Regions from separate parts of the Homo sapiens genome. Here region 2 is linked to region 1. Evidence: fine-mapped expression QTL. A gene starts in region 1. The other region holds a variant in brackets. All regions are shown on one strand. Distances are from middle to middle. Region 1 holds the start of SHFL (shiftless antiviral inhibitor of ribosomal frameshifting). Region 2 has its middle 5.9 kb from the start of EIF3G.

The links. PIP is the estimated chance that this variant, and not a neighbour inherited with it, causes the effect.
Region 2: its variant is fine-mapped to the expression of SHFL in whole blood (TOPMed, PIP above 0.99).

What each region holds. Positions count from the first base shown.
Region 1 is chr19:10,081,398-10,089,726 of GRCh38, forward strand. SHFL (shiftless antiviral inhibitor of ribosomal frameshifting) reads left to right here and starts at 4,920. Exons shown (of 8, transcript NM_018381.4): 1 at 4,920-5,051; 2 at 5,532-5,655; 3 at 5,854-5,903; 4 at 8,260-8,298. The coding sequence starts at 5,031. RefSeq lists silencers at 4,619-4,838, 4,909-5,188.
Region 2 is chr19:10,121,654-10,129,982 of GRCh38, forward strand. No RefSeq gene overlaps it. Among named protein-coding and RNA genes, the nearest start is that of EIF3G, 5.9 kb to the left of the region's middle. The variant A/G (reference allele first, on the strand shown) is at 4,856.

The DNA.
Region 1 (8,329 bases):
AAAAAAAAAAAGGCCAGGCGCAGTAGCTCACGCTTGTAATCCCAGCACTTTGGGAGGCTGAGGCAGGCAGATCATGAGGTCAGGAGATCAAGACCATCCTGGTTAACACGGTGAAACCCCGTCTCTACTAAAAATACAAAAAATTAACTGGGCGTGGTGGTGGGCGCCTGTAGTTCCAGCTACTTGGGAGGCTGAGGCAGGAGAATGGCATGAACCCGGGAGGCGGATCTTGCAGTGAGCCGAGATCGCACCACTGCACTCCAGCCTGGGCGACAGAGCGAGACTCCATCTCAAAAACAAAAAAAAGGAAGAAGAATAAGAGGAGGAGGAGGAGGAAGAGAAGGAGGAGGAGGGAGGAGGAGGAAGGAGGAGGAGGAAGGAGAAGGACAAAGAGAAGAAGAAGACAGCAACAGAAAATGAGAGACATGATTAATCCAGCATGCTTAATAGTTTAGTAGTAGATTTTTCCATGGTGTCCTTCCCAAAAGGTTTCACCAACGGATGCTGTCTCTAATGATTTGGGAGATTTCTCATTTCCCTACAGCTTCTCCAGCTCTGAGCATTCCCGATCAATTTTTCATTTGACTCAACTGGAGTGGGAAATTGACTAGATTGTGAAAAGCATGCACATGCTCCAATGGTCTCCATCTCCTCCACAATATTTTTTTTCTTTTCTTTTTTTTTTTTTTTTTGAGATGGAGTTTTGCTCTTGTTGCCCAGGCTGGAGTACAATGGCACGATCTCGGCTCACCGCAACCTCCGCCTCCTGGGTTCAAGCAATTCTCCTGCCTCAGCCTCCCGAGTAGCTAGGATTACAGGCATGCGCCACCATGCCTGGCTAATTTTGTATTTTTAGTAGAGACAGGGTTTCTCCATGTTGGTCAGGCTGGTCTGGAACTCCCGACCTCAGGTGATCCCCACCTTGGGCTCTCAGCCTCCCAAGGTGCTGGGATTACAGGCGTGAGCCACCGTGCCCAGCAATTTTTTTTTTTTTTTGAGATGGAGTCTCACTCTATTGCCCAGGCTGGAGTGTAGTTGTGCGATCTCGGCTCACGGCAACCTCTGCCTCCCGGGTTCAAGTGATTCCCCCACCTCAGCCTCCCGAGTAGCTGGGACTACAGGCACACACCACCATGCCTGGCTATTTTTTGTATTTTTAGTAGACAGGATTTTGCCATGTTGGCCAGGCTGGTTTCGAACTCTTGGCCTCAAGTGATCTGCCCTCCTGGGCCTCCCAAAGTGCTGGGATTACAGGTGTGAGCCACTGCACCCGGCCTTCCTCCATAATTGAACACAGTCGCCCAGCTTAAGCCTCCAAGGGTCCAGTTCCAGGTCAAGATTTGCTGCTTTTTTTGTTTTGTTTTGTTTTGTTTCGTTTTGGTTTTGAGACAGAGTCTTGCTCTGTCACCCAGGCTGGAGTGCAGTGGCATAATCTTGGCTCACTGCAACCTCTGCCTCCTGGGTTCAAGTGATTTTCCTGCCTCAGCCTCCCAAATAGCTGGGATTACAGGTACCCGCCACCACGCCCAGCTAATTTTTGTATTTTTAGTAGAGATGAGGTTTCCATGTTAGCCAGGCTGGTCTCGAATTCCTGACCTCAGGTGATCCACCTACTTTGGTCTCGTAAAGTGCTGGGGTTACAAGAGTGAGCCACCGCGCCTGGCTGATGGGGTCTCACTATGTTGCCCAGCATGGCCTCGAAATCCTGGCCTCAAGTGATCCTCCTGCCTTGGCTTCCCAAGTGCCGAGATTACAGGCATGAGCCACTGTGCCCAGTCAATGAGCTTTTAATGTACATAATGTGGCTGAAGTGATGTGGGACTTTCAGGCTAGATCATAAAAAGATACAACTTCCACCTGGCTCTCAGCTCTTGGAAGGTGCTCGGGAGGCCAGCTCCCATGCTGGGAGTACACTCATGCCACTCAAGTATACTGGGAGGAATCGAGGCATCCCGCCAATCATAGCACCCATCTGCATGCCCTGAGAGTGAGCCACCTTGGAAGCAGATTCGCCAGCCCCCGTCAAACCTTCAGATGACTGAAGCCCTGACCAACTCCTTAACTGCAACCTTCTGAGAGGCCCTGAGCCAGAACAGCCCAGCAGCAAAGCCATTTCTCAAGTCCTAAGCTACAAAGACCACATGAAATCATAAGGATGGACCAGGTGCAGTGACTCACACCTGAAATCCCAGCATTTTGGGAGGCCAAGGCAACAGGATCACTTAAGCCCAGGGGTTCAAGACCAGCCTGGGCAACATAGTGAGACCCCCCCGCCCCCAGCTCTACAAAAAAGTATAAAAATTAGCCGGGAGTGGTGGCACATGCATGTAGTCCCAACTACTCGGGAGGCTGAGGCAGGAGAATTGCCTGAACCCGGGAGGCAGAGGTTGCAGCGAGCCGAGATCGTGCCACTGCACTGCAACCTGGGTGACAGAGCAAGACTCTGTCTCAAAACAAAAACAAAACCCAAACAAAACAACAACAAAATAACAAACAAATTAGCCGGATGTGGTGGCACATACCTGCAGTCCCAGCTACTCAGAAGGCCAAGGCCGGAGGATTGCTTGAGCTCAGGAGGTTGAGGCTGCAGCGGAGCTATGATTGTGCCACTGCACGCCAGCCTGGGTGACAGAGTGAGACCCCGTCTCTTAAAACAAATTTAAAAAAATGCTAGCTCTACGAGGGCAGGGATCTTTGTTTTGTTTGCTGTCATGTCCACAGTGCCTGGAACAGCATTGGGAACAGAGTACACGCTCTATGTGGTTGCCACGGTGATTATAACCTAACAGACCTTTGGTCTGCATATTCTGCGCTAAAAAAAAAAATCAAAAAACAAAAAACCTACCAGATCTGATTTATGTCAGGGCTAGCTCAGACTCTTACCTGTTTCCTGCCCACTCAGTGCCCATCTCGGCCAGTGAATGGGACATAGCTATGACCTCCCTCTGCACTGGGCAAATAGATTAGTAACTGGCAACTATGACAGGCGATCCACTCCAAACCTCGCCACTTCCCTCAGGATAAAATCCCAGGTCTTCTGTGCAGTTTCCAGCCCCCATCCTGCCTAGGATTCCACCATTCAGCCACAAGGAATCATGAACTGCTTGTAGTTTGCAAATACAGTAGTCTCCAGAGTGGAGTACATACACCCTATAAACAAAGCTTTGGGGTTCAACTGGAAAAACTTTAGAATATCTAGATTTGGGGGGTTTTATTGTTTGTTTTTTAGTCTTTTAAAAATAACTTTTTCCTTTTCTTTTTTCTTTTTTTAAAGACAAGGTCTTGCTATGTTGCCCAGGCTGGTTTTGAACTCCTGACCTCCAGTGATTCTCCCACCTTGACCTCCCAAAGTGCTAGCATTACAGGTGTGAACCATCATGCCCAGCTCCATTTATCTATCAATATTTTATATAACAGTTAACAGAATATATTGATATAATTGTATTTGTATATAATTTATAAATAATATCCATCTTTGAGGCCAGGAGTTTGAGACCAGCCTGGGCAACATAGTGAGACCCCGTCTCTACAAAAAAAATAGAAAATTAACCAGGCATAGTGGCATATGCCAGTAGTCCCAGCTACTTAGCAGGCTGAGGCAGGAGGATCGTTTGAGCCCAGGAGTTAGAGGCTGCAGTGAGCCACCATCAAACCACTGCACTCCAGCCTGGGCAACAGAGCAAGATCTTGTCTCAAAAAATAAATAAATGAATAAATATCCATCTGGGGGTGTAACTTTAACACTTTTACCTATAGGGGTGTGCAATGGAGAAAAAAATTTGGAGTCGTTGAACACAATGCTATTTTGCTCCTCAGAGAGTATCCGGCAGTCTCTGGAGACGTTTTTGGTAGTCACAACAGGGAGAGTAGGGAACCACTGGCATCTAGTGGGTGGAGGCCAGGGATGGTGTTAAATGTCCCCCAATACACAGGACAGTCCCCCACACAAAGAACTAGGCCGCCCAAAGTGTCAAGAGTGCTGGGCTTGAGAAGCCATTGCCCAAAAACCCCAGACTTAGTCTTGCTTTGGGGGCTCTGCACGGCTGCCTCATCTCCCCACTCTATTCCTCCCCTAGCTAAGACCTCCAATTTCAGTGACTCTACAAAGCATCCCCTCCTCCAATGAAGTTGCCATCTCTGTGTCCCCAGGCTGGGCCAGAGCCCCACCACCTAAGGGCTCCCTGATGTGCCCTGTACTGGGTTAGAATTGTCCGTCCCACGGGGTTCTTAACCATTGCAGATTCCCTGGATCCCTGAGACAGCCGGATTCTACCGGGCTACTAGAGACCAAGAATCTGTATTTTTCTCAAGCACCGCTCCCCCCAACCACACACACACTGCCTGCCCCTATCAAGGGCACACAGCAGGTGGCCCAGTGACTAGTTGAACGCCTACTGCAAGCCAGGCGCTATTACGCGATCCACTCGGGAATCTTGGCACATACTCCACTCCATGGTGTAGACACCAGGATTCTCCCCATTTCACAGAGGGGTAAACTGAGGTTGAGAGAGGTGACCGTAGCTAGGACAGAGACTCAGGGCAGGAAAAGGGCCCAGGTCCTCATGAGCGCCAGATTCCCGGGGAAGGAGGGAGAACAGAGAGGAGGGTGATGAACTGGGGGAGCGCGCGCTGGGTGGGGGGGCGCGGGGCCTCGCCGCGGCCTTCTGATGCGGCCCCGCCCCCACGAGGGACGTGAAGACGCGGACCCCGCGCAGCGTGGGGACATGTGACCGACTGCAGAGGCCGCGCCGCCTCCCCCGTCCGAGGTCTGCGCGCTCCGCCGCAGGGTGCAGACCCGGGGCGCCCGCCTGGGTTTGGGGCGCAAGAGCAGAGGCGGAGCCAGGGCGGAGCCAGCGCGCCGGGTCCCCCCTGAATCGAAAGCGAAACAGGGGCCGGGGAGGAAGGGCGGAGCCGGCCCCGAGGCACCGCCCCCTGCCCTGCGCGGCTGCTGGACCGACGGGCGCACCCAGGTAGGGGGGCGGCTGAGCCGCGCAGTGCGGACCCTCGCGGGGAACTGCGCCGCCGCCACCATGTCTCAGGAAGGTGTGGAGGTAAGCGATGGCTACGGCTGGGCCGGGGTCAGCCGCGACAGACCCCGAGGAGCGGCCGGGAGGCGCGGAGGGGGCTTCGCAGTTCCTGGGGACCCCCATCCTAGAACCCCAGATCCTTACCCCTGCCTGGCGCTCGCCCCCCTTGAAAAGGAAAGTGACTCCCACGTTTCCCCAGAGCGAAATGAGGCCTCCCCGAGGAAAAGCGGGGGCTGCAGGGTCAAAGGTCAGAGGCCAGAGATAACCTGGCCGCCCCCCCACACCTTAGGCTGGGACGCTCGCCCCAGTCCGCGCCTTCCCCCAACGCCCTGTGGGGACTTTGGCTTTTTCCAGGAAATGCCGTAAAGGGATGAAAGGCGGGGGGGGGGCGGCGGAGGCCAAAACCAAGGGTCAAGTTCGGGCCGGGAGAACGGTGCCTAGAGATGGGGGAGGGATGATCCCGTTTCCCCTTCCCCCACCGGAACCCCCCTGTCTCCATCCCAGCTGGAGAAGAGCGTCCGGCGCCTCCGGGAGAAGTTTCATGGGAAGGTATCCTCCAAGAAGGCGGGGGCTCTGATGAGGAAATTCGGCAGCGACCACACGGGAGTGGGGCGCTCCATCGTGTACGGTGAGGCTGCAGGGGTCCCGGGCCTGGTGCGGGGACCGCGCGTGGGAGCGCCGAGGGGGCGTGGTCTAGGGAGAGGCGTTGAGATCACCTCCCCCGGAGGTCCCAGCCTTGGGGAGGCTCTGCGTCGCGGCTCTGGGTGGCCTGGAACTCCCACAGACCCTTCAAGGGCCCTTCCCTTATATGCACTCTCCCCCGCAGGGGTAAAGCAAAAAGATGGCCAAGAACTAAGTAACGATCTGGATGCCCAGGTAACCTATCCCCTCCCCTCGCAAAGGACCGGGTCACGGGAGGGAGAGCAAGAGGGGGGACCCGACCCGTTCATGGTGACTGACCCCCCTCTGAAACAGGAGGGACCAGGCATTGTCGGTCCATAACTCATCACCCAATCTCACTTTTTCACCTCTCCATCATTTGTCCGGCCAGGGAGCCTGCAAACAGTAGGCGCTCATTATGTGCTGATTGTATTCAATGGGGGAGAGAGCCATGAAACTAAGCAATGAAAGGAGCCAGGATTATTGCCATCATAGCGGGGGCGCAGAGGTCAGAGAAGGCTTACTGGAGGAGGAGGTACCAAGTCTTAAAGGATGGGGAGGAGTGAGCCCTGGGAGGGGAAAGGGAAAGAAAGGCAGGGGTCTTGGGGTGGGGGAGGGAATGGCATAAGCAAAGGCTGGGAGGTGGGGAAGGGTTGTTAGTGGCAGTCTCTAGAAAGGCTAGGATGAGCAGAGGATTGGGGAGGAGAGAGAGGCAGGGGAATGGAACCCTTGTGTTGAATGAATGAATGAATGAATGAATGAATGAATGAATGAATGGCTTTGAAGCACAGGTGCATCATGGCTACTTTGCTTCTTTGACAGCTTTGGTGATGGGAACGCTGTGGATTTAGCCTGCCTGAAAGGCTTAGTGTAGGGCTGTTAAAGAGTATAATAGGCCAGGCGCGGTGGCTCACGCCTGCAATCCCAACATTTTGGGAGGCCGAGGCGGGCGGATCACCTGAGGTCGGGAGTTTGAGACCAGCCTGACCAACATGGAGAAACCCGTCTCTACTAAAAAATACAAAATTAGCTGGGCATGGTGGCGCATGCCTGTAATCCCAGCTACTCGGGAGGCTGAGGCAGGAGAATCACTTGAACCCAGGAGGCGGAGGTTGCAGTGAGCTGAGATCACACCATTGCACTCCAGCCTGGGCAACAAGAGCGAAACTCTGTCTCAAAAAAAAAAAAAAAAAAAAAATGCCGGGCGCGGTGGCTCACGCCTGTAATCCCAGCACTTTGGGAGGCCAAGGCGGGCGGATCATGAGGTCAGGAGATCGAGACCATCCTGGCTAACATGGTGAAACCCCATCTATACTAAAAATACGAAAAAAAAAATTAGCCAGTTGTGCTGGCAGGCCCCTGTAGTCCCAGCTACTCAGGAGGCTGAGGCAGGAGAATGGCGTGAACCCGGGAGGCGGAGCTTGCAGTGAGCCGAGATCGCACCACTGCACTCCAGCCTGGGCAACAGAGCGATTCTCCGTCTCAAACAAACAAAAACAAACAAAACCAGAGTATAACAAAACATGTATCATAGTCTACATTTATACATATAAAAGTATGATAAAAATGATAGCAGAGGGGCCAGGTGTGGTGGCTCACGCCTGTAATTCCAGCACTTTGGGAGGTTGAGGCGGGCAGATCACTTGAGGTCAGGAGTTCGAGATTAGCCTGGCCAACACGGTGAAACCCCTTCTCTATTAAAAATACAAAAAATTAGCTGGGCGTGGCAGTGCATGCTTGTAATCCCAGCTACTTGGCAGGCTAAGGCAGAAGAATCACTTGAACCTGGGAGGCAGAGGTTGCAGTCAGCCAAGATTGTGCCATTGCACTCTAGCCTGGGAGACAAGAGCGAAACTCCGTCTCAAAAATATAATAATAATAATAATAATAATAATAATAATAATAATATTAGCAGAGAGTAGCATTCATTGAGTACTTCCCACATGGCAAGATTCCAGGAATTTATTTATTTCATCACTGCAGTGACCCCAGGAGACAGGTCCTATTATTTATCCCCATTTCACAGACAAAGAAACTGAGGCCGAAGTCACTTGCCAGCAAGCAGGGGCAGCTGCGATTTGAACCCTGGCCACCTGGAGTCAGAGCCTGGGCTCTAACATGCCTGTCAGTGGGAACCCAGGGGGCAGGGAGTGGCTTGCCCAAGTCCCCACAGCTGGAAGTGATACAGCTGGGATTTGAACCCACATCTCTCTCCCACTTAGCCGAGCACAACGTGGCCTCAAAGGGGCGATATGTCACAACATCAACAAGCATGTGGCATTTGCAGGCAGGAAGTGAGTATGGGGGTCAGGCTAGCCTCACTCAGGCAAGCCCTCCCCTAAGCCTCAGTTTCCCCATCTGAGCAATAAGGTAACAGGTGTGCCCACCTCTCAGGGCTGCTATGAGGACAACTGAGGCCACACACCTGGCTCTCAATAAGTGAGTGGTGCTCTGTGAGCTTCTGGCGAGTTAGGGGCACCCTACTCATTGCGGCCGGGGGCCTCCCCCAGCAAACGGGTGGAAAGAGGCCTGAGCCCCATCCCCAGTTTCTGCCCCTGCTATCTCCACCCAGGATCCACCAGAAGATATGAAGCAGGACCGGGACATTCAGGTGAGTTGGTGGCTAGGGCTTGGGATGGGGG
Region 2 (8,329 bases), 40 kb after region 1:
CTGCCTCAGCCTCCCGAGTAGCTGGGATTACAGATGACCACCACCACGCCGTGCTAATTTTTGTGTTTTTAGTAGACGGTTTAGTAGAGACGGGGGCCCACCTCGGCCTCCCAAGGTGCTGGGATTACAGGTGTGAGCCACTGCGCCCGGCCCTTAAAAAAATTTTTTTTTTTTAATCAGCTGGGCATAGTTCTGTGTGCCTGTAGTCCCAGATACTCAGGAGGCTGAGGTGGGAGAACAGCTTCAGCCCAGGAGGTTGAGCCATGATCATGCGACTGTACTTCAGCCTGGGTAACAGAGAGAGACCCTGTCTCAAAAACACACACACGCACACACACACACGCAACAAAACAAAAAATAACTTGTAAGGGAGAATGCCCTGAGAAAAATAAATAAGAAGACAGGAAAAAAAAGTTTATGCTTTTTTATCCTCTGAGTTGTGAGTGAGGAGGCCACTCAAGTGTTTGGAATATCACCAACTTTTCTTGTGGAAAAAATTATTCTAGAAGCCTGTAGAGAGCCAAGTGGAAGGGAAAACATTAGCTGGAGAGCAGGAAAGAGAGGCACGCCGCTGTGGCCTTTCAGGAGGGTGGCCTGGCTATATTGGTGAAAATATGAAGCTGGTCCAAAGGACTGATAAACATTTTTACAAGCTTACTCAAATGTACTCTGAGCAACACAAAATCCAAACAACCCAGCAGATTGGGCAAAGCTTCAAAAATTCGATATCACCCCGTGGTAGTAAAGATGTTATAGGGAAACAGGCTGGGCACCTGTAATCGGGAGGCCGAGGTGGGTGGATCACCTGAGGTTAGGAGTTCAAGACCAGCCCCTGGCCAACATGGTGAGATGCCGTCTCTACTAAAAATACAAAAAAAAAAAAAAAAAAATCTGGCCATGGTGGTGGGTGCCTGTAATCCCAGCTACTTGGGAGGCTGAGGCAGGAGAATCGCCATTGCACTCCAGCCTGGGCGACAGAGCAAGACTCCATCTCAAAAAAAAAAAAAAAAAAAAGAGGAAGCGATATATAAAATGGCATATATTACAGGAACCAATTTGTGTAAATCTTCAACAGCACATAGATATGCAGATATATGCAAATCATTTCCTGGAAAGAAAGAATCAGAACCTGTTAATGAGGAATGCTTTGGAAAGAAGGCACCAAGAAAGGAAATATTATTTTTGGACATGTATTAATATATAATATGCATTTATGTAATATATGTGAGATGTAACATATAAATATATTTCTTGGCTGGGCACTGTGGTTCGTGCCTATAATCCCAGCAGTTTTGGAGGCCAAGGCAGAAAGATTTCTTGAGCCCAGGAGTTCAAGACCAGACTAGGCAACATCATTGAGACCCCATCACTACACACAAAAAATTGCTGGGTGTGGTAATGCACGCCTGTAGTCCCAGCTACCTGGGAGGCTGAGGTAGGAGGATTGCTTGAGCCCAGGAGGTCAAGGCTGCAGTGAGCTATGATTGTGCCATTACACTCTGGCCTGGGTGACAGAGCAAAAACCCTGTCTCTAAAAAAGAAAGAGGCTGAGCACAGTGGCTCACGTCTGTAATCCCAGCACTTTGGGAGGCCAAGGCAGGCAGATGACCTGAGGTCAGGAGATCAAGACCAGCCTGGAAAACGTGGTGAAAACCCATCTCTATTAAAAATACAAAAATTACCTGAGCATGTTGGTGCATGTCTGTAATCCCAGCTACTCAGGAGGCTGAGGCAGGAGAATCGCTGGAGCCCAGGAGGTGAGGCTGCCATGAGCCAAGTGCTGGGATTACACAGGTGTGAGCCACATCAAGGTTTGGGTGCAAGAGTACATCTGGTTATAGATTACAGAAGCATAATACCCTGACCCCATTAGATGTTATTTTATGTGTAGGAAAAGGTTTGAACCAGGTCCTTTTTTTTTTTTTTTTTTTTGAGATGGAGTCTCACTCTGTTGCCCAGGCTGGAGGGCAGTGGCACAATCTCGGCTCACTGCAAGCTCCGCCTCCTGGGTTCACGCCATTCTCCTGCCTCAGCCTCCTGAGTAGCTGGGACTACAGGCACCCGCCACCACGCCCAGCTAATTTTTGTATGTTTAGTCGAGATGGGGTTTCACCGTGTTAGCCAGGATGGTCTTGATCTCCCGACCTTGTGATCCGCCCACCTTGGCCTCCCAAAGTGCTGGGATTACAGGTGTGACCCACCCGTGCCCGGCCCAGGTCCTTTTTTTCTTTTTTCTTTTTTTTTTGGGGGACGGAGTCTTGCTCTATTGCCCAGGCTGGAGTGCAGTGGTGCGATCTCAGCTCACTGCAACCTCCGCCTCCTGGGTTCAAGCGGTTCTCCCGCCTCAGCCTCCTGAGTAGCTGGGATTACAGGCATGCACACCACCACACCCGGCTAATTTTGTATTTTTAGTAGAGACGGGGGTTTCTCCATATTGGTCAGGGTAGTCTCGAACTCCCGACCTCAGGTGATCCGCCTGCCTGGGCCTCCCAAAGTGCTGGGATTACAGGCATGAGCCACCGCACCTGGCACGCCTTTTTTTTTTTTTTTTTTTTTTTGAGACAGGGTCTTTCTCTGTCACCCAGGCTGGAGTGCAGTGGCACGATCACAGCTCACTGCAGCCTCAACCTCCCCAGGCTAAGGTGATGCCCTTGCCCTGGTCTCCCAAAATGCTGGGATCACAGGCATGAACCACCGTGCCCAGACTCATTTAAGGAATATAGTGACTCGGGCAAGGGACATGGTGTGCCCTGTGCTCTGTCCTGTTTTGTCTTCAAAGCCTTGTTCTGTAGAGCTGCGCAGACGTGTCTCACGTGTCTCAGAGTCAGGGGCTTTGTGAAATTACGCTGGAAAGCAGAATTGAGCAAACCCAGCTTAACATTAGTTACTTTTTCTCACATTTTCACAACAAAATATCACAGACTAGGAGGCTTAAACAGCACACATTTATTTTCTCAGTTCTGGAGGCTGGAAGTCCAAGATCACAGTGTCGGCAGGGTTGGTTTCTTCTGAGGTGGGGGCACCTTCTCCCTCGGTCCTCACGTGGCCTCCTCTGTGTGTGTCTATGTCCCAATCTCTTCTTCTAAGGACATCAGTCATATTGGATTAGGGCCCACCCTAATGACCTCATTTAAACTTTTTTTTTTTAATTATTTTTTTTAAAGGTGAAGTCTCACTCTGTAGTCCAGGCTGGAGTGCAGTGGTGCAATCTCAGCTAATGGCAACCTCCACCTCCTGGGTTCCAGTGATTCTCCTGCCTCAGCCTCCCGAGTAGCTGGGTCTACAGGCATGTGCCACCACACCTGGCTAATTTTTGTATTTTTGTATTTCTAGTAGAGACGGGGTTTCACCAAGTTGGCCAGGCTGGTCTCAAACTCCTGATCTCAAGTGGTTTGCCTGCCACGGCCTCCCAACGTGCTGGGATTACAGGCATAAGCCACCACACCTGGGTTTAATTTTCTCTCTAAAGGTCCTGTTTCTGCTGGGCACAGTGGATCACGTCTGTAATCCCAGCACATTGGGAGGCCAAGGTGGGCGGATCCCTTGAGGTCAGGAGTTCGAGACCAGCCTGGCCAACATAGCGAAACCCCTGTTGTCTACTACAAATACAAAAATTAGCCAGGTGTGGTGGCAGGCATCTGTAATCCCAGCTGCTCGGGAGGCTGAGGCATGGCAATCCCTTGAACCCGGGAGGCAGAGGTTGCCATGAACCAATACTGCGCCACTGAACTCCAGCCTGGGCGATGGAGTGAGACTCCTTTTTTTTTTTTGAGATGGAGTTTTGCTCTTGTTGCCCAGGCTGGAGTGCAGTGGCATGATCTTAGCTCACCGCAACCTCCACCTCCCGGGTTCAAGTGATTCTCCTGCCTCAGCTTCCCTAGTAGCTGGAATTACAGGCATGTGCCACCATGCCCAGCTAATTTTGTATTTTTAGTAGAGACGGGGTTTCTCCATGTTGGCCAGGCTAGTCTTGAACTCCAAACTCAGGTGATTCGCCTGTCTTGGCCTCCCAAAGTGCTAGGATTATAGGTGTGAGCCGCCGCACCCGGCCAAGACTTTGTAAAAAAAAATAAAAATAGGCCATGCGCGGTGGCTCACACCTGTAATCCCAGCACTTTGGGAGGCCGAGGTGGGAGGATCACTTGAGGTCAGGAGTTCGAGACGAGCCTGGCCAACATGATGATACCCCATCTCTACTAAAAATACAAAAATCAGCTGGGTGTGGCCAGGCATGGTGGCTCACGCCTGTAATCCCAGCACTTTGGGAGGCCAAGGTAGGTGGATCACCTGAGGTTGGGAGTTCGAGACCAGCCTGACCAACATGGAGAAACCCTGTCTCTCCTAAAAATACAAAATTAGCTGGGCGTGGTGGCGCATGCCTGTAATCCCAGCTACTCAGGAGGCTGAGGCAGGAGAATCGCTTGAACCCAGGAGGCAGAGGTTGTGGTGAGCCGAGATCCTGCCATTGCAGTCCAGCCTGGGCAACGAGAAGGTAACTCTGTTTCAAAAGAAAAAAAAAAAAAACAGCTGGGCGTGGTGGTGCGTGCCTGTAATCCCAGCTACTAAGGAGGCTGAGGCAGGAGAATCACTTGAACCCAGGAGGCGGAGGTTGCAGCGAACCAAGATTGCGCCATTGCACTCCAGCCTAGGCAACAGAGACTCCATCTCAAAAAAAAAAAAAAAGTAAATAGAGATAAAAAGAAAGAAATACTAAATTGATGGACATGCAGATGTGGTAACAGCCAAAAAACAGGGGCAGAAAGGAGACGTGGCAATGTCCTTACTGTGGTTTTTCTAGGGAAGTAGATGGGCACCTCAGCCTTACATGTTTATTTCATTTAAAAAACAGCCTTCC[A/G]CTATGAACTATGGTATGGTGGTTCCTCAAAACATTAAAAATAGAACCACCAAATGACCCAGCACTTCCACATCTGCTTTATACTTACAAGAATTGAAATCACTGGAGACCAGCCTGGGCAACAGAGTGAGACGCCATCTTTACAAAAAATAATCATATATTAAAAGGAAAAAAAAAGAAGCCAGGCACGGTGGCTTACACCTGTAATCCCAGCACTTTGGAAGGATGAGGAGGGACGATCATTGGAGCCCAGGAGTTTGAGACCAGCCTGGGCAACATAGCAAGAACTCATCTTTACTAAAAATAAAAATAAAAATTAGTTAGGCGTGATGGTACATACTTGTAGTCCCAGCTACTCCAGAGACTGAGGTTGGGGGATCTCTGGAGCGAAGGAGTTCGAGGCTGCAGTGAGCTATGATCGCATCACTGCAGTCCAGTCTGGGTGAAAGAACAAGACCCTGTCTCTAAAAAGAAAAGACAAGGTTTCTAATTCTTACACCAAAATACATCCTCAAGTTGTTCTTGGTGAAGGATCGTATACCTGAAAATGTGACCACTGAAAAAGTGGGATTAAAAACAAGGAAATTCAGGCCAGGCGCGGTGGTTCACACCTGTAATCCTAGCACTTTGGGAGGCTGAGGCAAGCGGATCACCCGAGGTCAGGAGTTCAAGACCAGCCTGGCCAACATGGTGAAACCCCATCTCTACTAAAAATACAAACATTAGCTGGGTGTGATGGCCCATGCCTGTAATCTCAGCTACTCAGGAGGCTGAGGCAAGAGAATCCCTTGAACCCAAAGATGGAGGTTGCAGTGAGCAGAGATCGCGCCACTGCACTGCAGCTTGGGTGACAGAGTGAGACTCCATCTCCAAAAAAAAAAAAAAAAAGGAATTCAACAAGTTGGTTAGATTCAAAAAACACAGTTTACAAAATCACAGCCAATACAAATGGAGCATCTCTCCATAGGCAAAGGACCATGGTTTAGAAATCAAGAAAACATCCCATTTATATTAGTAATGAAGGGACTAAATACTTAGGAATCAAGTTATGAAGTCTGCAAGATCTGGATGAAAAGCTGTGGACACAAAGGAATTCCTGAACAAACAGGACAAACCCTGTTCTTAGAAAGGAAGGCTTGTCATTAACATGTCAATTCTTCCAGAAGTCTGCAAAGTTAATGAAATCCCTATAAAACACCTGCTTGACTTTTAGCGGCTGTGCCAGTTCTAAAGTTTCAATCCAGTCATTCAACTCCTAGAAAAGTAGCCTAGACGTGGATACACATGTGTATACAAATCTATGTCCAGCCATCCCTCGGTATCCCCAGGGGATTGGTTCTAGGACCCCATGTGGTACCAAAATCAGAATGTGCTCAAATCCCTAATATAAAATGTCATAGGCCGGGCATGGTGGCTCACACCTGTAGTTCCAGCACTTTGGGAGGCTGAGGCGGGTGGATCATTTGAGGTCAGGAGTTCAAGACCAGCTTGACCAACATGGTGAAACCCCGTCTCTACTAAAAATACAAAAAAATTAGCCGGGCGTGGCGGCACATGCCTGTAATCTCAGTTACTTGGGAGGCTGAGGCAGGAGAATCACTTGAACCCGGGAAGCAGAGGTTGCAGTGAGCCAAGATTGTGCTACTGCACTCCAGCCTGGGCGACAGAGTGAGACTCTGTCTCAAATATAAAATAAAATAAAATAAAATAAAATGGCATAGTATTTGCATATACGCTACACATATTCTCCTGTGTACACTACTTTTTGACAGAGTCTTGCTTTGTCACCCAGGCTAGTGCAATCTCGGCTTAATGCAACCTCCACCTGCTGGGCTCAAGTGATCCTCCCATCTCAGCCTCTGGAGTAGCTGGGACTACAGGTGTGTGCCACCATGCTCAGCAAATTTTTGTTATTTTTTGTAGAGAAGGTGTTTCGCCATGTTGGCCAGGCTGGTCTTGAACTCCTGGCCTCAAGTGTTCCTCCTACCTTGGCCTCCCAAAGTGCTGGGATTACAGGCATGACCCACTGCGCCCGGCCTCTCCTGTGTACTTTATGTCGTCTCTAGATTATTTGTAATACCTGACATAACGTCTACACGTTGCTTTATTCTCATGGATTCCATGTAGTACTTGGTAAGTGGCAAATACAAGTTTTGCTTTTTGGAACTTTGTGGAATTTTTCTGAATATTTTAAATCTGTGGTTGGTTGAATGCCAGAGGTGGAACCCTTGGATACAAAGGCCTGACCTGCATCACAATTCAATCTACTGCTCTTGAGACTGTAGTTGTTTCCAAACAATATAAAGAAAAAAAGTTCAAATAAAGGCTTTCTAAGAGATTTATTGTATAACATAGTGAGTATAGTTAATATATTCTTGTCCAGGCGCAGTGGTTCATGCCTATAATCCCAGCATTTGGGGATGCCAAGGCAGGTAGATCGCTTGAGCCCAGGATTCTGAGACCAGCCTGGGCAACAAAGCGAGATCCTGTCTATAAAAAAATATAAAAATCAGCTACCAGGCATGGTAGCTCATGTCTGTAATCCCAGCACTTTGGGAGGCCGAGGCAGGCAGATCGCTTGAGCCCAGGAGTCTGAGACCAGCCTGGCCAACATGGCGAAACCCCATCTCTACTAAAAACATAGAAATTAGCCAGGCCTGGTGGCAGGCCTGTAATCCCAGCTACTCGGGAGACTGAGGCATGAGAATAGCTTGAACCCAGGAGGCAGAGGTTGCAGTGAGCCAAGATCGCACCACCGTACTCCAGCCTGGTGACAGAGTGAGATTCCGTCTCAAAAATAAATAAAAATAAAAATAATGATTAGCTGGGTATGGCGGCACATGCCTGTGGTCCCAGCTACTACAGAAGCTGAGGTGGGAGGATCACGTGAGGCCAGGAGTTTGAGACCACCCTGAGCAACACAGTGAGACCCCATCTCCACAAAAAAAATGTAAAACTTAGCTGGGCATGGTGGCATGCGCCTGTAGTTCCAGCTACTCAGGAGGCTGAGGCAGGAGGATCACTTAAGCCCAGGAGATCAAGGCTGCAGTAGAACATCGCTGCACTCCAGCCTGGGCAACAGAGCAAGATCCTGCCTCTAAAATATATATATATTTTTTTTAAAAAGGACAAAACTGATACACATATTAATGACATGGATGAATCCCAAAGGCATTTATGCTGAAAGATCTGAAACACAAGAGCCCATGCTGGCCTGAACAGGCAGGTGTCATCTATGGAGACAAAACTGGATGGGAGGCTGCCCAGGGACTGGGAAGGGGGAGATCAAGTGGGAAGAGGCACAAGGTGACCTGAGGTGACAGAGACATTCTCTATCTTGATAAGGATATAGGCTACAGTGCTATGTTCACTTCTCGAAATTTAAGCTGAACATTTAGGACTCGCATATTTCATATTCTACCCCAATTTTCAAAAATAGAGGAACAAGAGAGATTCCTAGGTAAGACAACCTTC